Regions from separate parts of the Homo sapiens genome. Here regions 1, 2 and 4 are each linked to region 3. Evidence: fine-mapped expression QTL. A gene starts in region 3. Each other region holds a variant in brackets. All regions are shown on one strand. Distances are between the middles of the regions. Region 1 has its middle 15 kb from the start of FBP1. Region 2 overlaps FANCC (FA complementation group C). Region 3 holds the start of FANCC (FA complementation group C). Region 4 overlaps AOPEP (aminopeptidase O (putative)).

Region 1 (5,205 bases), 660 kb before region 3:
GCTGCTTCTTGATTTCTGTATCTCGATGTCTCAAAAGTCATGTCACACACAAGACTGAATTCATGGTCTTTCCTGACCTTCCACACCAAGCCAGATCTTTGTCCAATATTTTATTTCTTGGGTGATGACGTTACCAATCAGCCAGAAGTCTAGGATTTTTCTTTGACAGCCCCCCTCACCCTCCATATCCAGCCCACCCCCAAGTTTCTCCTTCATTCCCCGCCCCCCGCTCCATATTCAGCCCACCCCACCCCCCATAATTTGTGTTTTCCTGATGTCTTTGAACAGGTCCAGTTCTCCCTTCTCCTCTGGCACCATTCCGGCCCAAGCTGTCAGTCATCCTCCTCCCAGACTATAGCAGAGGCCTCCTCGTGGCTCTTTCATATCTATCCTGCACTCTCCAGCCCATTCTCTTTGCTGCAGCCAAAGCAACATTTTGAAATAGCTGAGAACACACACACACACATGACTTTGGTTGTGTGTGTTTTGAATAAGGGCTAAAATATTAACCCTGGCCTACAGACCCTGCACCATCTGGCCCCCCAGCCTCTCCAGTGTCATCTTCCATGTCCCACCAGCTGCCCCTGCTTCCCTGTTTCTGCTCCAGCCACATGGCGCCCTCCCTGTGCAGGGCCTTTGCATGGTGTTCTGAGTGCACTGCCCTGGCCACCGCCTTTTGCTTGGCTTGGGTTGTGTCTACGTTTGTGTTTTCAGCAAAACATCCCCTGACCCCCATGCAGGCCAGGTCTCATTCCTTACAGAAGCCAGTTTTCTTCCTTTAGAGCCCTGATGCCAGTTTGTGAAACACACTCGCTAACGTAGGGATCCGAGTGATGGACTGATGTCTGTCTCCTTCCAGCAGGCTGTTCACTCTCTGAGAGCGGAGGTATCTATTCTGCTCACTCTTTTATCCCAAGGTGTTCTTAACATGGCACCCCGAAGAATGTAGGCCCTCAGGAAATATTTGTCAAATGGTGACTGAAGTGGAGAGAGAGAGAGAGGGCAATGAGGCCGCCGCTTGTGAGGGCTCCAAGTGTTCGGAGGGAGTGGATTGTGCCTATTCAGTCACGCACCTTTGTCACTTGGGAAATGGCTGGCTCTGGCCTTGCACCTAGTGGGGGCTTCATAAATATTGGCAGGATTGAATTGAACTGAGTTGACGCACTCACCAGCTCCACTGGAAAATGTGTCTCGAGCTAGCACTTACTGAGCATGTAAAACTACGGGTCATTATGCTGAATGCTTCTCATGTGTTCACCCATTTAATCCTGAAGACACCATGAGATGGGCATTACTGTTCCATTTTTATAAACAAAGGAACCAGTCAGGGGCCCTGTGGGAAACAGATGGCACACTCAGGATGATTTCAGGAGAATTTCACAAAGGAATCCTCCACAACCATGTGGACGGGGGTGGGGGGAAGAAAGGCATAAGGGGCTGCGATGCCTCAGGGCTCACAGTGACTGCTGGGGGCTTCACTGCTACCCCTACGCTTGAAGTTTGCCAGAACCCCACACAGAGAGGGCAGAGTGGAGGAGCTGCCTGTCAGGAGCCAAGATGGCAGGTCGAGGGCTGTGGCCAGTCCAAGGTACCCCTGAGGGCACCAGAATAAAGTGTCCAGACTCGCTTTCCCTCTGAGGCTGTGCACTGACTGAACCCAGCTGGCAGCCCTGGGGCAGGGGAACCCTTGATGCCGTCCTGCGGGTCAGCCTCCCAGGGCCTCGAGCAGGTGGAGAAGGATGGAAAATGGACCTGGAGGTGCAAACAACCAGCACAAGTCCCAGAGCACAGTCCTCAGAGCTGGAGCCCCTCTCCAAGGCCCATCAAGAGCCATCTCCATAGTCCTCCAAGAGGACTGCTGTCCATGTACCGCCTTCTTGGAACAGAAATCAGAGAAGTCAGAGTTCTTCTCCATGCGAGTACTGACGAGTGGGTGCGCTGAGACTGAGTCATTGGCTAGAGCAGGAACTGGTGGG[CAGT/C]GATGCTGGGGAAGGAAGTACAGAGAGGACATGTCAGGTGGTCACCAGCCCAGCAACTCCCCATCACATGTGCCTCAGCACGTCCAGCCTAAGGGAGGGAGGGACAGTCGACCCAGACCTTGTCAGTCCACAGGCTGGAGGTAATTGAAATCCAGCCACTTTGATGGCAACTGCTATGGCCCTAGTCCTGTACTATAAAGCAGATCATCTGAGAACAAGAGAGCTCACCCAATGTCCATTTCACCTTGAATAAAATCTGGAGGCTGTGGCTCTGCTTACCCTCAACAGTCAGCTAGGGGCACTTCTCCAATGACACACCCCATGTCCTTAGACTTCCTCAGTGGCTCAATGTCTAACATGAGGAAGCGAGAACATGGACATCCCAACGCTTGTGTAATTGTAACGACTGTCTGCAAAGCACTTCAGTGTTCCCAAATGGAAAGATTCCCCGGAAGTAGAAAGAGCTATTATTGTCCATTATGAGCATTCTTTCTAGAATCTTCTTCTTTCTACCCTCAACTGTGGCTTTTTAGACTAGCAGACATCTGCCAAAAGCCACTAACCCAGAGACACTGATTCTATCAAACAGCACAGTGGGACAGTCACTCTCCCAACTTTCTTTCTTTTTCTTTTTTCTTTTTTTTTTTGAGACAGAGTTTCGCTCTTGTTGCCCAGGCTGGCGTGCAATAGTGCAATCTCGGTTCACCGCAACCTCCACCTCCTGGGTTCAAGCGATTCTCCTGCCTCAGCCTCCCGAGTAGCTGGGATTACAGGCATGTGCCACCGTATCCAGCTAATTTTTGTATTTTTGGGAGAGACAGGGTTTCTCCATGTTGGTCAGGCTTGTCTCAAATTCCCCACCTCGGGTGATCCACCCACCTCAGCCTCCCAAAGTGCTGGGATTACTGTCATGAGCCACCAGGCCCGGCCCCCAACTTTCTTAATAATTAAATCCAATCTCTTGCTAGACAGACTTTTTTGTTGTAGTGCCAAGGCTGCTTGAAATTTTCATTTTGCTGTCTAATTTGCATAAACTTGTAATCAATAAGTTTTTGCCCTATACTTGGCCCCTACTCCTACCGTAGTAAAATATTCGATGCATATTTTTCATGGAAATATTGAAGAAACATACATTCTCAGACAAGAAACATCAAATGTGGCCATTGCTTTTGTACCACTCAATATGCAACTCAGACTGGTTGAAATTTAGACCAAATGGTAACATCCAGAAGAAGATAGGACCACAGAGCTAAGGAGGGCTGCAGTGGGCTGAATATGGTGCCACTGCCCACAGTGTCCACCCAGAATCTGGGATGGTGGCCTTATTTGGGAAATGGGGTCTTTGAAGATGTAATCAAGTGAAGGCTGTTGCCATGTGATCATCCTGAATTACCCAGGTGAGCCCTAAACCCAATTACAAGTGTCCTCACAAGAGAAAGGCAGAGAGAGATTTGAAACACACAGAGCAGAAGGTGATGTGGAGGTGGGACAGAGACCCAGCGAAGCAGCCACATGCTGAGGAGCGCCTGGAGCTGGAGGAGGCAGGAGAGGACTCGTCCTGAGCCGTCAGAGGAAGGACAGCCCTGCCGCCACCTTCATTTCAGACTCGGCTTCCAGAACCGCAGGAGGACACAGTTCTGTGGCTATGAACCACCCGATTTGTGGTGCTTGGTTATGGCAGCCACAGGAAATGAATACAGAAACTATTCAAATCCCCTGGTTGAATTCCTTTATTTTACAGATGAGAAAAATAACAGCATTCGCAAGCGACACACAGTTTATGAAATGTTTTCACAGAGTGACCATGTTCAGTCTTCATAGCAATTCTGTGAGGTGGTAGTTTCTGCCTGTTAAAAGGAAAACTGAGGCAAACTACATTTAACAGAGTTTAATTGAGCAAAGAATGATATGGGAATCAGGCAGCCCCCTGACCAGAAGAGGTTCAGAGCGTCTCTGGTGCTGCCGTGTGGTGAGAGTCTTTACGGGCAGAGAACGGAAAGTGAAGCACAGAAAACAGAAGTGAGGCAGAGAAACAGCCTGATTGGCTACAGCTCAGCGTTGGCCTTACTCGAACACAGTTGGAAGACTTGGCCACCTGTGAGTGGTTGAAGTATGGTTGCTTGTCACAAGAGTAGGTTACAGCCCCTTTCACATCCAGTTAAGTGACAGTTCCCTTTGTGCAGAGAAGCCTTTAGCCACACAGGTCCCAAATGTAACATAACATTTGTTACACTTAAAATAAGTAAGGAGGCAGCTGTAGGCTAAATTTAACATGCCTGGGAGGAGGGAACTGAAGCTCAAACCAGAAGCAGCAGATAGATGGGTCTGCAAATTTCATGCGTTTTCCACCAGATCTCTGCCTGTGGCTCAGAGAGGTGTGGCAGCACAGCTACCTCACACAGCTGCTGAGAAACAGGCTTGGATACAGGTCTTTTTTTTCTCCCCACTTTTGCTTCAGATCTCTACCCAGGTATAACGAGCTGCATCTCAAGGTCAGAACGACTGAACAATAAAGAGGTTGGTTCAACAGATGACCTCAAAACTCATAACCTACATCCCGAAGCTAAAGAAAAACTTACGTCTCCAAAAAGAGGTGTAGTTAGCTGCAGGTTATTTGAATGAGCAGCACATGCTGTGCATTTGCTTTAAGATTCTCCAAACACGCAGAAAGCCAAGCTAATCCTCAGCGCTCCCATGCCAATCTGGTGTGGGGACCCTCCACTCCAGGCTGCCTTGTAGAATGCCTTATTGATGTGCGGCAAGGGGCACCCCATGAAAGTCCCAACAGCTCTGAAGGTAATGAGCAAATAATCCAGTTGAGCAAGCAATCAAAGAACAATAACAATTGTCTTGTGACAATACCCCCCAGTTTGTAATTAGTTAGCTTAAATTAGTTTAAATTCACTTCATTTGGAAGATTTTGCCTCTGAGGCAGGCCAAGGCTCTCTTTCAGAGGCCAATTAGATTAAATTAGAAGTGGCACATTAGCTGGGGAGACTTCATTCATTTTGGGTTTTTGCAGCCTTAATTATGATGCAGACACAGCTGGAGTCATCCTTTGGAGGGTTTTCTTGCTTCAGCAGGCACTGGAGGCGACTGGATTCCTGGGAGAGGTGCTTTCAGTGGCGTGTGTGGCCAACCAAGCCACCCAAGGCTACTTTGTCACCAGATTCTGCTCTTGGCCCATTCCCCCAGCTGCTGTGGGAGAGTCACAGGAAGTGAGGAA
Region 2 (5,000 bases), 150 kb before region 3:
TGAGTATGATGTTAGCTATGGATTTTTCAAATATGGCCTTTACTACTTTACTACATTGAGGTCATTTCCTTCTATTCCTAATTTGTTTAAGGTTTTACCATAAGTGAGTATTGAGTTTTGTCATATGCCATTTCTGCATTAAGATGATCCATGTGGTTTTTGTTCATCATTTTATTAATGTGGTGCAATATAGTGATTTTTGTATGTTGAGCCATCCTTGTATTCAAGGAATAATTTTCATTCAGTCATGGTGTTTATACATATCTTTTTAACGTATTGTTGAATTCCCTTTTTGCTGAGAATCCTTCCATCATGATTCACGAAGGATATTAATCTGTTTTCATGTAGTTTCATTGCCTGATTTTCGTGTCAGGGTAATGCTTGCTCACAAAATGAGTTTGGAAATGTCCCCTCTTCTTCAATATTTTGGAAGACTTTAAGAAAGACTGGTGTTAATTCTTCTTTAAATGTCTGATAGAATTCTCCAGTGAAGCCATCTGGTCCTGGTTTTTTTCTTTGTTGGAAGGTTCTGAATAACCAATTCAATCTCTTTACTAGTTGTAGGTCTGTTCAGATGTTTTTATTTCTTCATTATTCAGTCGTGTAGGCTGTATATTTTTAGACATTTATTTATTCTAGGTTATTCAATTTGTTGGTATATAATTGTTCATAGTAGTCTCAATCTTTTTAATTTTTGTGGCATCAGTTTTAATTTCTATTCTTTATTCCTGATTTTTGCTATTAAGTCTTCTCTTTTTTTTTCTTAGTCTAAGGAATTGTCAATTTTGCTGATCTTTACAAAAACCCAACTCTTAGTTTTTTCTTCTATTCTCTATTTTATTTATTTCTGTTCTAATCTTTATTAGTCTCTCCCTTTTAACTTTAGGTTTAGTTTGTTCTTTTTCTAGTTGCTTGAGGTGTAAAGTTAGGTTTCTGATTTGAGATCCTTCTTATTTTCTTTTTTTTTCTTCCTTCAAAAGCATGTACACTTTCTTCTTTTTTAATGTAGGCATTTACCACTATAAACTTCCTGCTTAGAACTGCTTTTGCTGCATCCCATAGGTTGTGATATGTTGGGTTTTCATTTTCATTTGTCTCAAGTTATTGTCTGTGTTTCTTGTAATTTGTTCTTTGACTCACTGGTTGTTTAAGAGTGGGTTAATTTCCACATATTTGTGAATTTTCCAATTTTCTTTTTGTTACTGATTTCTATTCCCTTGTGGTCAGAAAAAATAGTTACTATGATTTCAGTCTTCTTAAATTTGTTAAGACTTGTTCTGTGGCCTAACATGTGGTCTTTCCTACAGAATGTTCTATATGTGCTTGAGAAGAGTGTATATTCTGCTGTTATTGGGTAGAATGTTCTCTATATGCCTATTAGGTCCAATTGGTCCACAGCATTATTCAAGTTCTATTTTTTTATTGGTCTTCAGTCTGGTTAATCAATATGTTATTAAAAGTGGGGTGGTGAAATCTATTATTATTGTGTTACTGTCTCTTTCTCCCTTCAATTCTATTGGTATCTGCTTCATATATTTGGATGCTGTGTTAAGTGCATATATTATTGTAATTGTTGTATCTCCCTGAATTGACACTCTTATTATTATATAATCTTTTTCTTTGTCTCTTTTGATAGTTTGATATAAGTATGGCTATGCCTGCTCTATTTTGGTTGCCATTTTTCCATCTTTTCATTTTCAGCCTATGTATCTCAAGTGAGTCTCTTGTAGCTAGAATATAGTTGGATCTTGTTTTCTGATCTATTTTGCTATTCCACATCTTTTGAATGGGGTGTTTAATTCATGTTCACCTAAAGTAATTACTGATAGAGAAGGACTTACTATTGCCATTTTGTTGTTTTCCATATACCTAGTAGTTATTCTGTTCACGATTTTCTCTTATTCCCTTCCTTTGGGTTTCATTGATTTTTTTCATAGTGACATGCTTTCCTTCTCATTTTCCA[T/C]TGTACATCTCCTACAGGTATTTTCTTGTTGTTACCATGGGCATTACATTAAACATCTTAGAGTTATAACAACCTAACGAGATAACTTCAATCACATACTAAAACTCTACTCATTTACATTTCCCTCCCCAGTTTATGTTATCAATATCACAAATTACATCCTTTTCTATTTTGTATCTATCAACACAGTTTAATAGTTATTTTTACACTTTTATCTTTTAAGTTCTATACCAGAATTAAAAAGTGATTTATGTACACTCAGCCCTCTATATCTATGGGTTCTGTATCCATGGATTCAACTAAATCATGGATCAAAAATATAGTATTTGCAGGATGTAGAACCCAAAGATTGAACGTTTGTATCTGTAAGTTCCATACAGTTTACTATGGGACTGGAGCATCTATAGATTTTGGTATGTGTGGGAAGTCCTGGAACCAATCCTCTCTGGATACTGAGGGACAACTGTACTATACAACACGGTATTATAAGATTTTGTGTTTGTCTGTATATTTACATTTACCAGAAGGCTTTATATTTTTGCATGCTTTCATGTTGCTAATATTCTTTCATTTCAACTTGAAGGACTCCCTTTAGCAATTCTTGTAAGGCAGGTCTAATGGTGATGAACTCCTTCAGCTTTTGTTTATCTGGGAATGTCTTTTTTTCTTCATTTTTTGAAGGATGATTTAGCCCAGATGCAGTATTCTTGATTGGAAGGGTTTTTTGTTTTGTTTTGTTTCCTCCCTGGCTCTTTGAATGTATCATCCCACTCCTTTCTGGCCTGTAATATTTCTGCTGAGAAATCCACTGATAATCTTCTGGAACCTTCCTTGTACATGACAAGTCACTTTTTTCTTGCTGCTTTCAAGATTATGTCTTTAACTTCTGACAATCCGATTTTTGTGTATGTTGTTGTAGGCCTCTTTGGGTTCATTCTTTGGAGTCTGCTGAGCTTCTGAAATTAGGATATCCAATTCCTTCCTAATATTTGGGAAGTTTTCACCATTATTTCTTCAAATAAGTTCTCTGCCCCTTTCTCTCTTATTCTAGGACTCACAAAATGTGTGTATTGTTCCATTTGATGTTGTTCCACAAGTGTCTTAGGCTTTCTTGACTTTCCTTCATTCTTTTTTCTTTTTGTTTCTCTGACTTAATAATTTCAAATGATTTGTGTTTAAGTTTTCTGACCCTTTCTTCTGTTTGATCAAGTCTACTGCTGAACCCCTCTAGTAAGTTTTTCAATTCACTTATTGTGGTTCTTTAGCTCCAGAATATCTGTTTGGTTCTTTTCTAGTTTCCATCTCTTTGTTGATATTCTCATTTTGCTCACATATTGTTTTCCTGATTTCATTTAGTTGTTTATCTGTGTTCTCTTGTAGTGCCTTGAGATCCCTTAAGGCAATTATTTCAAATACTTAGTCAGGTAATGCATAGATCTCTGCTTCTTTAGGGTCTGTTTCTGTAGATTTATTTTCATCCCTTGATTATGCCACGTTTCCCTGGTTTACTTTGTGTCTTGTTATTTTTGTTGTATTTTGTACATTTAAAGAAACATCTACTTCTCTCAGTCTTTATCGACTAACATGGTACAAAGGAAGGCTTTCACCAGTGGACCCGGCTAGACATTCTGGAGGTCCCTCAAACCTTTTCCAGGGATATATCTTCTCTGGGCTTATGCGTGTGATTTCCAAATTAGAGGGCTTTACTGGTTTTTCAAGAGCTCCTAATCTTCCCCTCCCCTCTAGTGTCCGTTTGTGGTATTGCAGATTCTCCAGTGCTGCAACAAGCTGCTGAGCTCTCTTGTTCCAAACTACGCCATTTCTCTGTCAGTGCTGTGAGTCAGGCAAGACAGATACCAGTCCCTCTAGTAGGCCCCTGAGAAGCCAGAGGCTTCTCTTCCCCTCCCAAAGAACAGGTCATGAGCTAAGTGCTTCCTCCCAATTCTGTTGAGCTATGCCAGCCTCCATCGGCAGCACTGTCAATTCTCTGGTGCTACCACAAACCACTAAGCTTTCTTTTGTTCTCCATGGCCCCAAGGCATCAAAAGTAGTCTTCCTTTATCTGCAGTTTTACTTTTTGTAGTTTGAGCTAGCCATGGTCACCCGTGGTCCAAAAATATTAAATGAAAAAATTCCAGAAATAATTCAAAGGTTTTAAATTGTGCACTGTTTTGTTCGAGATGGCACCTTGCTCTGTTGCCCAGGCTGGAGTGCAGTGATGCAATATCAGCTCACTGCAACCTCCACCTCCCAGGTTCATGTGATTCTCCTGCCTCAGCCTCCCGAGTAGCTGGGACTACAGGCATAAGCCACCACGCCCAGCTAATTTGTACTTTTAGTAGAGATGCGGTTTTGACATGTTGGCCAGGCTCGTCTTGAACTCCTGAAATCGGGTGATCTACCTACTTCAGCCTCCCAAAGTGCTGGGATTAAAGGCATGTGCCACCGCACCTGGCCTAAATTGTGTACTGTTCTGAGTAGCATGATGAAATCTCATGCTGTCCCACTCTGTCCCATCTGGAACATGAATCATCCCTTTACCCAGGGTATCCATAATATATACACTACCTGCTCGTTAGTCACTTAGTAGCCATACTGGTTGTCAGATCAACTGTCACAGTATCACTGTGCTTGTGTTCAAGTAACTCTTATTTTATTAATACTTAATAATGACCTCAAAGTCCAAGAGCACTGGGGCTGGCAATTTGGATATGCCACAGAGAAGTTGTAAAGTGCTTTCTTTAAGTGAAAAGGTGAAAGTTTTCAACTTAATAAGGAAAGAAAAAAATCATATGCTGAGGTTGCTGAGATCTATAGTAAAAACAAATCATCTATCTGTGAAATTGTAAAGAAGGAAAAAAATTTCTGTTAGTTTTGTCGTTGCATCTCACATGGCAAAAATTACAGCCATCATATATGATAAGTGCTTAGTTACGATGGAAAAGACATTAAAGTTGTGAGTGGAATACAGAAATGTGTTATGATTGGTGGCAATCAGGTTTGGTACTATCCACAGTTTCAGACATCCACTGGGTGT
Region 3 (5,205 bases):
AGTCTGGGCAAACAGAGCGAGACTCTGTCTCAAAAAAAAAACAAAAAACTTGCTTTCACTTTATCGATAAAAAAAATTTTAATGAAATTTTAAAAATAATTCAATTCACAATACCATCAAAAATAAAACTTCAAAATTAATTTACAAAAGGGCAAAATTTGTACACTGAAAATTACTAAATACTGCTAAGAGAAATTAAAGCGCTCAACAAATGGAAAGAGATTCCATGTTCATGATGAGATGGCAATTCTCCCCCAAATAGATATGCAAAATTAAATGCAATTCCTACAAAGTCTATCACAGCACGGTTTTCTGAAAAAAAATAACAAACTGATACTAAAATTTATATGGAAATGTAAGGAACCCTGAACCGCCAAAACAATTTTGAAAATGAAGAAAAACATTGGATAACTTACACTACTTAATTTCAAAACTTACTATAAAGCTGCCATAATCAAGATAATGTAATGCTGACATAAAAGGCATGCAGGTCTCTTACCCTCAGTCCCGTATTAAACTTGAGTTAGAAGATGCCAATCTCAAAATGGAGGTAAAACCATTGCCTGCTAGCCCCCAGTCCAACTCTGGTGGCCAATCTGAATTGTTACCAATTTTATTTTTCCAGACACGGTCTCAGTCTGCTGCCCAGTGTGGAGTGCAGTGGCGCAATCACAGTTCACTGTGGCCTCGACCTCCTGAACTCAGGTGATCCTCCACCTCAGCCTCCCGAGTAACTGGGACCACAGCCCCGCATCACTATGGCCGGCTAATTTCTTAACTTTTTGTAGAGACAGGGCTCTCTCTGTTGCCCACGCTGGACTCGAACTCCTGGGATCAAGTGATCCTTCCGCCTCCGCTTCCCAAAGTGCTGGGATTACAGGCATAAGCCACCATGCTCTGCCTGTTATCTGAATTGCCTTTCCTTCTCCACTTCTGCATTTTTATTAAAACATTGCAAAACTTCCAAGGTGCTTCTCCTGTATGTATTTTTTCACATTAAGTCAATCACTCAAGATCCACAAACAAGACAGAGAATGCACATATCCCAGCCTAAAATAAAACTTTTAAAAATCATTTGGTGCTCATTTCCAGCCCGATTTGAGGCCCTAACACTACCAACTTGGAACTACCACTCATGTGAGTTTCCTCTGGCTCTCTCCATGGCCCAGATAATCAATCCAACTTTCTACTGGCCAGGCTGGCCTCCCTGTAGCTGGTTCTCATAAACACGAAATTTGTATAATTGTTATTGGAACTACCTGCTGAAATATGGAACTGGTTAAAAGTACCATTTGTTTTAAAATGTACATGCACAGTTGCACATACATGCAGCAACACATCTTCCACAACCAGCCAATCAATCAAGTTAATGCTTTTTATTAGAGGACAAAACAAAAAATACCAATATAGAGCCTGCTTTTCTTTTCTGATGCCTTGGTAAACGTTTTTGGAGAAATCAAGAGAAAATATGACCGAATAAAGCAAAAATAAATTCGAATGTATAATATACAAAGTATAATTAGTCCAGTTCTCAAGAAGCAGGCTCTATTACTGGGAGTAGTGGGTTGGTGAAAAAGATCTCTGATATATCTAGGAAAACAAATTCTTTTTCGATGCAGCCTTTCTTGTATATGAATAATGTATATGAGTGCTTATTTCCAGGTGACTCTGGTACAGCACATAACATTGAAACATCAATTCAAGTTTAATGTATAAAGTCGCAATGAACATGTTTTCCATCTAAGCTTAGGTAATGAATGATCTCAACACATGGTATGAATTCTACTGTTTGTAACAACCTTTCAGGGGAGTAAGGAGAAAACGATCTGTCTGAGGGCATATCACTGACAGTGAGTGACAGCCACAAAGAGCTGAAGTTGGGTGGCCCAAAAGTGCTCTGCTCATTTGATAAATGCTAAGTCAAATCACATCACAGTTTAGATGCATTAAATGGGGCACAAGTTAGAATAAAATCAGATGCCCGGGAGTTTTCCAAGTTTCAGATTAGAACAAAAGTCCAGGCACATACAGGACTTTGCTAGAAAACTCCTTGGTCTCTTCCCTTAAGATTCTGGTACCCAATTTCCCATGTTATAAAACTCCAAGTCTTTTCCCCCATTCGGTGCGCTGGACACATAAGATCATAGAGGGTTCGTAGTTGTAAACGCACCCACCTAAAAAATTAAAAAGAGCAAACCAACAAACAGCACCTGAAAAATCTCTCACGGGCTTTGAAGATATGGCCTGGCGTCCACAAAAAGAATGGAGGGAAGACACTGGCCTCTGCGAACCCGCCTCCCTCCGGGAATAAAAGGCGGAGGGCGGGAGGGGTAACAGCCGCGCCCCGGGCTCCTCTAATTGGACCTCGCCCCTCCTGGCGCCCCGGCGAATGGGGTTTGGGGGCAGGGGTGTGAGGGACGGGGAGGACGAGGCCAGCTGTAGAGGGCGACCGGCTCAAAGGGGCGAGCTTTTCACGGCTCCCACGAGTCCGAGGCAGAGAAATTCACCTTTGCTCCTCTCCTTTGAAGAAGACATAGCTGCCTGCGCTCAATGAACAAAAAGAACCAAAACGCCAACACCCGGCTCCCGCCTCTCCGGGGGCTCCCTTCCGCGCGACCCCAGCGCCGGCTCCCGCCCCCGCTTTCCCCGCCCTGGCCCCGCCCCGCGGGCTGGCACCGCCCGCCACCTTCCGCCTCCCGCCTCCCGCCTCCCGCCTCAGCCTTAGCCACAGCCCTGCGCCGGCGGGAACCCCTCTCGCCCACCGCAAGGCGCGCCTGGCCCACCCGCTCTCGCGAGCCTTCCCTCTTGCCCCTCGCCTCCTCCTCCCGCTCTCGCCGCTGACGTGTCGGCCAGACCCCCGAGGGAAGCCTCCGCCCTCGCTGCGTTCTGCGGCCTGCCGCTTACCGGGTGGTCCTCGCGGGAGCTGCTTCAGCAGTTTGGGCAGTGGCGGAAAGGAAGCCACCGCCCGGGATCTGTGGCTTGAAAATTTGGCTTTGCCTCGTATTGGCTTTTTGAGTTTTTTTGGAATTTTCCCGCGGTCGCCCGGCAGTGGAGCCGCGCGCGCGCACACGTGTCAGCAGTGCATTCTGGGGCCTGGCTAGCGGCCCCGCGCGCTCCCGCGGCGTCGCGGGAAAATTCCGACGAATCTCGGGTCCGTGGGGCGGGGCGGGCGCGGCCAGGGCTCTGGCGGAAGTGGGCCCGGCTGGGGCGGGTTCTAGGCGAGCGGAGTCGGTACTGCTCCAGTGTTCCCGGTTTCGCGCGGAAGCCCCGGCGGGAGCAGGGTTGCAGCAGCGCCCGCGGAGAAGGGGCGCTGGCTTCTTCCATATTCTGTTCAAAATGTAGGGGAGGTAAAATGGAAATTAGTTCTTTTGAAGAAAAGTTGAGGCTTTGTCAACGGGGTAAAACCTCTAAAATAAGATTTTCTAACTGCGTTCTAAACAATAGCAACAAAAAAGGCATCTTCAGTTAATGATTTCCCCTACCGTACATTAGTTCCATACAGTGTTTGGTCGGGGTTCAAATCAGTTCAACGCTGTACATAAACCACCCAAACAAATATTAATAAAATTTTCTCCAAACTCCCATTTATGACAATGGCATTAGCTTGTCTTGGTGAATTTTTTTTTCTTCTAGGATCTGACGACTTAAGCTTTAAAATGTCTTAAATCAATGCCTCACAACCATAAATCATAATCATAAAACTACAGCTTAGGTCGGGCGCTGTGTCTCAGGCCTGTAATCCCAGCACTTTGGAAGGCCAAGGCGGGCGGATCACGAGGTCAGAAGATCGAGACCATTCTGGCCAACATGGTGAAACGCCGTCTCTACTAAAAATACAAAACGTTTAACCGGGCGCGGTGGCGGGCGCCTGTAATCTCAGCTACTCTGGAGGCTGAGGCAGAATAGCTTGAACCAGGGAGTCAGAGGTTGCAGTGAGCCGAGATCGCGCCACTGCACTCCAGCCTGGCGACAGAGGGAGACTCCGTCTCAAAAAAAAAAAAAAAAAAGCTACAACTTCACATATACGTTCAAAAACACACTACAGGCCGGGCGCGGTGGCTCACACCTCTAATCCCAGCACTTTGGGAAGCTGAGGCGGGTGGATCACCTGAGGTCAAGAGTTTGAGACCAGCCTGGCCAACATGGCAAAAACCCGTCTCTACTAAAAATACAAAAATTAGTGTGTACTCCCGGCTACTTAGGAGGCTGAGGCAGGAGAATTGCTTGAACCCAGGAGGCGAAGGTTGCAGTAAGCCAAGATCGCACTACTGCACTCCAGCCTGGGCAACAGAGCGAGACTCTGTCTCAACAAAAAACACCACAAAGCTGTGTGTGCTTGTAATAAAAATAGCTCTCAAGTATTTAAACATGTCCAACTATTCCTATGGTGAAGAAATACCCGTTTTACCAATGAATACTTTCAATTCAGAGACTAATTTGCAGAGGTTATACATTTATAAGTGATACAATAAGTATATAGCATAGCAATAGCAACAATCTGTTTAAGAATTAAAGGTAGTTAAAAAAAGGAACCGATCCAGAGGTTGAGACAAAACTGGCAGAATCTGCAACTACATTAAGGAATTCGGTGTTTACATCCATTCTCGAAACTATTCCATGCCAGTTAAGGAAGTCGGTGCTTTTTGATTGTTTTTTAATTTTAGATTCGGGGGTACATGTGCTTGCTTGTTACATAGGTATATTGTGTAATGGTGGGGATTGGGCTTCTGGTGTACCTGTCCCCCAAACATTGAACATTGTACCCAATAGCTAATTTTTCAGCCCTCACCCCCTTCCCACCCTCTCCCTTTTTGGAGTCCCCAGTGTCTTGTTATTCCCATTCTTATGTACATGTATACCTATTGTTTAGCTCCCGCTTATGAGAACATGCAATATTTGATTTTCTGTTTCTGAGTTTGTTCACTTAGGATAATGTCCTCCAGCTCCATCCATGTTGCTGCAAAGGACATGATTTCGTTCTGTTTTACAGCAGAGAGGTCGATGTGTTTTTGATGTGTGCATAGTGTGACATGGATAAATCAAAAGCAAGTCCTGGGTAGGGAAATACATGCCTGAGGGGCACTCATCGTGGCACCTTGACCATGAGAAAGTCACCTCTGTGGTAACAAATCGAGAGTGAGTTGACGTTTAAGTTCTGCATTTATCAGCAAAGAAAGCAATTAAAGTATGTATTTCTTGAGAGAA
Region 4 (5,205 bases), 350 kb before region 3:
ATTACTCAAAATCCCACCACCCAGAAATACCTATAATTAATATTGTGTGAGTGACACTCCAGAAATCATACTATTTATCCCTCAATGTTTATATGTTATACATGATATATATACATGTATCTGTGTATGTATGTATATATGGCATATGTGTGTATACAGACATTGATGTCACTGGACAGAAATAATTTTATAAAAATAGGATTATATTATATGTGCATTTTAATGAAGTGTTTTAAATTTTCTTTTACTTGAATTTAATGAATGAAAAAGCAACTAAAGTGGAGATAACTTCCCAAACTTAAGATAAATGTAAGAAAGATTATTTTCTAAAAGAATTTTTTATGGTTAAGAAACATTATTATAAAAGAATTAAGAGGTTGAAATTATTTTTTCCCTTTACCTATATATTCCATTTGTAGAAAACATCAGTTTATTCACTACTGTAAAAGATGAGGAATTGGCCGGGCACGGTGGCTCACGCCTGTAATCCCAGCACTTTGGGAGGCTGAGGCGGGTGGATCATGAGGTCAGGAGTTCGAGACCAGCCTGGCTAACATGGTGAAATCCCATCTCTACTAAAAATACAAAAATTAGCCAGGCATTGGTGGTGAGTGCCTGTAATCCCAACTACTCAGGAGGCTGAGGCAGGAGAATAGCTTGAACCCAGGAGGCGGGGGTTGCAGTGAGGCGAGATCACGCCACTGCACTCCAGCCTGGGACAGAACGAGACTCCATCTCAGGGAAAAAAAAAAAAAAGATGAGGAATTAAATAGTTATGTACTTTAACTACTTTCCCCTTAATTCTAAATTTTTCTTAATTATTATTTTTATATATTAAGATTTATTTCATTTACAAAATTGACTATAACCATAATTTTCACAGTTGTGTAATCTTGGCTTGTTAAAGGATTTCAGTATTTACCACCAGTTATTTTACCTTTTTTCATGAATATTTTATTTTGATTCAGCTCTTTGCTGGCTGAATTTCATTATCAAATTTGTGTTCGTTGCAGACTCACAGGCTCTATTTCTGAGTTCTTACTGCGTAAGAATGCTTGTGGGCCGGGTGCGGTGGCTCACGCCTGTAATCCCAGCACTTGGGGAGGCCAAAGTGGGCAGATCACGAGGTCAGGAGATCGAGACCATCTTGGCTAACACGGTGAAACCCCGTCTCTACTAAAAATACAAAAAATTAGCCGGGCGCGGTGGGGGGCGCCTGTAGTCCCAGCTACTCGGGAGGCTGAGGCAGGAGAATGGCGTGAACCCGGGAGGCGGAGCTTGCAGTGAGCCGAGATTGCGCGCCACTGCACTCCGGCCTGGGCGACAGAGCGAGAATCTGTCTCAAAAAAAAAAAAAAAAGAATGCTTGCCTGTTTTCTTTATATTTGAATTATAAACTGACTGGATATAATATTCTTGGGTCACATTTTCATGCCCTCAAAACTTTTTAGACATGGCTCAGCTGCTTTCTGGCATTAAATCCTGCTGTGGAAACTTCTGCAGTCATCCTGCTTTTCCCCCTTTCTGCCTCTTAGATGACAGAAGAATTCTTTCCTTATCTTTGAAGTTTAGTAATTTTATCAGGAAATGGCTTGGTGTCTATGGTTTTCTATCTTTTTTCCCCCTGGAAAAATAGTGTGCATTTTTATTTTTAGTCCTAGATTCTATTCTTTCCTCTTTCAATAAGTATGTCTTCATTGTATTTTTGAATTCGTTTTTCCCCCTTGCAGGGTTCTGGATTTCAAGGTTACCAGTTTTCCTTGTGTTATGTCATCCTTGTCCTCTATACCTGTTATTTTCCAATTGCGTTTATCTTTTTCTTCTTCATGACCTGTATTAATCCGAAGCAACCCCTTTATTGTTAGTGTTATTTTCCTTAATGTCTGTTCTTTTCCTTGACGTTTCTATTAGTGCTCTTGTACTGGTCCTTAATTTATTACCTTTGCCATGAAATCTCTATGTTCTTTTCATTTTGTTGTTTTGTCAACTTATCTTTGAGCTTTCATTTTACCAAATTTATGTTTTTATTTTTTCTGTAGCTGTTAATTTATTTTATAGTGTAAAGTATTCATGGAGAATTTTCTTCTATTCCTTGGATTATGTTTTCTTCAAGGCGGGATTCCTTATCTTTTATGTGTTATGCTGCTTTCTTTCTATGTG[AGTT/A]GTTGTTGTGTTAGTTTGCATGGTTGCCATACGTTTCTTTTTGCTCATTCTCAGCTTGGGTAGCACTCTCCTGACCTTTCGTTTATTCTCATATGTATTGGAACATTATCTTTGATTCCTTTTCCAACTTGTGCTATGCCTGTTTTTCTCTCCCTCTGAGCTACAGTTTGAAACTTGGATGTTATGTGTACAGGGGAGGAGGAGAGAAGCTCCACTGGAGTTGTATACAGCCTTTGTTGGGAAAATGTGGCTGTGCTGCTCTTGAAAACTTGTTAAATGTCCCCTGCCAAGATTCTTGTGACCTAATATGGGTGCAGCTTTTTCCCACTGTGTTAATATTAATTAATTCCCTCTCAATTAATATTGTTCCTCCAATTTAGGTGACAGCCCTAGAACATGAGCAGTTCACCGAAGAGAGTCATCCTCAGTTGTTTATTTCCCACGTTTTACTCATCTCTTGCCAGCAAACACTTCCAGCCCCTCCACAGGCAAAAAAGAAGACAGACAAAGATATTCCTATTTTTTCCCAAATGTGTGGATATTTGTGAGAATTTGCCGGGTTTGTGCAGTTCACCAGTACTGCTACTGCTAAGCATGAGGCTGGGGGTCGGTGCAGAGGGAGAGTTAGAAGCTGTGTTTGAATCTTAGATTTCTTCCTTAGTTGCATCTTCTTGAAGTTTATGCCATGAGGCTGTCCTTGTTTGAATGCTGCTGGTTACATTTTTAATTACTTTAATGGTTTGTGTTTTTGTGTAAATTGCTAGTTAGTTATTGATGATGAAGGTCTATGATCCAGTTTCTTTACTCAGAAGTCCCTAAAGTTCTTCCTTTTCCAGTTTACATCTTAATCCTTTCCCTTCCAAATGCCCTCCCTGTCCAGCATTTCAATATTATCATCTTTTTTTTTTTTTTTTTTTTGAGACGAAGTCTCACTCTGTCACCCAGGCTGGAGTGCAGTGGCGTGATCTCGGCTCACTGCAAGCTCTGCCTTGTGGGTTCACGCCATTCTCCCGCCATTCTCCTGCCTCAGCCTCCCGAGTAGCTGGGACTACAGGCACCCGCCACCACGCCTGGCTAAATTTTTGTATTTTTTAGTAGAAATGGGGTTTCACCGTGTTAACCAGGATGGTCTCGACCTCCTGACCTCATGATCCGCCCACCTCAGCCTCCCAAAGTGCTGGGATTACAGGCGTGAGCCACCGCATCCAGCCAATATTATCATCTTTGTAGCCCCCACTAAAAGCCCTCTCTTGAGTGTAACAATAACTTCTTCCTGACAATTTCATTTCTTCTCAGTTTTTATCTTGCCAATCCTGTCCTTCCTTCAATATTTTGTTTTGCCTCTACTACCTCCCACCCCTTCCCCATGAACATGATAATTATTCATAAAATACTCGACAGAAATTGCTAGCCCCATGTAATAGTCAAGCCAGTGTCAGTTTATCCAGTAGAATCTACATGTACCTGCTTTCTGTTGAATACTTTCACCAGGACTAAAAAATAGTTACCAAATTAGCCATGTGCCAAAATCAGTGTTAGTTTTTCAAAAATGTGTAGTGTTTAATTTAGTGTTGTTAGGTGTTAATCAAAACAAGCTGTATGCGATGGACCTGATTGGCATATAGATTATTAGGACAGTAGGAAATGAAAAAAAAATTCTAAAGGAATGTATTTTCTGATTGGAGTGTGGGCTTGTAACCATCGCCAAGGGTCCAGATAGAATTTCATCCCCTTCATAGATTTAAATAAATCTATTGTTTTATCAATAGATTTTGGGGAGTGGGGGTGGGCTTTGGTTTTAATTTGTTTTCAGGCACACTGCAGAGGTGACAAGCTGGGGCCCCTACTATTTGTTGCTAGCTAACTTTGTCAAATTTTTCTAGAATCAGCTATGAAAAAAGTCTTCCTTGTCCAAATAAGATTTATAATTTGCTTTCACAAAACTGCCAATACACTGTAGGAAAGAAAGAAGACAGACGAAAGAATTGAAAAGAGGTGGTGCAGGAAGGAATAATCATAAGAGACATTTTTCTTTTTATTTTCTTGTGCTGTAGAAAGTGGAAAAAGCTTCTGTCATAAGTCCACTTTAGAGGTATATGCCAATTTATGAAAAGAAACAGGAAAACTAGTGTTTCATGGTTAAAGATGGAATCTATGACAGGAGTAAGAAGGGCCAGTGGGTTAATTCCATTGATAGATGGTACAGAGACTGCCTGGATGAGACCAGCTATCTTGAATGGGATGGAACACAGAACAGAAGAATATCGAACGCTATAGAAAGACATTCCCATAGCCTGTGGGAATGCAGCCCCATGTCTTAGAGATGCCCAAGGTGTTAGGATTTTGCGATCCCCTGGGCCTGCCATCCCCAGCATCGCTGGCAGCCTCCAGCTCACTGCTCTGTTGCCTGCAGGCCTGAGCTCTGAGGTAGGAAGAGGCAGGTGCTCCAGGATCACAGCCCACTGGGAGGCAGGACAACCATCTTCCTTCAACATGAAGCAGGGTTTCCGGGGCCTCCTGCGCTTACCCTGAACTCAACACCCAATTCTGGATACTTGTGCTCTGCAATCCTGTACAGAAGGATCCAATTGTAACTGGAAAATGCAAAAGGGCAGAATTAAGGTTAACTCTGAATTTCCTGCTTCTCATGCAATTAAATTCCCCCCGTTGCCATTGAGTTAATGTAATTTCCCCCCATATAATTGAGCATAAATTACCAGGCAAATATAGGATAAATTAGTATAGGCTACAAGGAGATAATGAAGTAAACTTAGTAAAAAGTTATCATTACAAGTACTTGGACTTTTTTTTTTTTTTTTTTTTTTGAGACGGAGTCTCTCACTGTCGCCCAGGCTGGAGTGCAATGGCGCGATCTCGGCTCACTGCAACCTCCGCCTCCCAGGTTCATGCAATTCTCCTGCCTCAGCCTCCCAAGTAGCTGGTATTACAGGTGCCCACCAACCCACCCAGCTAATTTTTTGTATTTTTAGTAGAGACGGGGTTTCACTATGTTGGCCAGGCTGGTCTCGAACTCCTTACCTTG

The links.
Region 1: its variant is fine-mapped to the expression of FANCC in prefrontal cortex (ROSMAP, PIP 0.95).
Region 2: its variant is fine-mapped to the expression of FANCC in whole blood (INTERVAL, PIP 0.98).
Region 4: its variant is fine-mapped to the expression of FANCC in whole blood (TOPMed, PIP above 0.99).

The regions. Positions count from the first base shown.
Region 1 is chr9:94,652,378-94,657,582 of GRCh38, forward strand. No RefSeq gene overlaps it. Among named protein-coding and RNA genes, the nearest start is that of FBP1, 15 kb to the left of the region's middle. The variant CAGT/C (reference allele first, on the strand shown) is at 1,977.
Region 2 is chr9:95,164,409-95,169,408 of GRCh38, forward strand. All of the region lies in intron 6 of FANCC (FA complementation group C), which reads right to left. Among named protein-coding and RNA genes, the nearest start is that of MIR3074, 81 kb to the left of the region's middle. The variant T/C (reference allele first, on the strand shown) is at 1,964.
Region 3 is chr9:95,314,622-95,319,826 of GRCh38, forward strand. FANCC (FA complementation group C) reads right to left here and starts at 3,088. Exons shown (of 15, transcript NM_000136.3): 1 at 2,905-3,088. RefSeq lists a silencer at 2,440-2,759.
Region 4 is chr9:94,959,671-94,964,875 of GRCh38, forward strand. The region is part of intron 9 of AOPEP (aminopeptidase O (putative)); the gene reads left to right. Among named protein-coding and RNA genes, the nearest start is that of AOPEP-AS1, 17 kb to the left of the region's middle. The variant AGTT/A (reference allele first, on the strand shown) is at 2,160.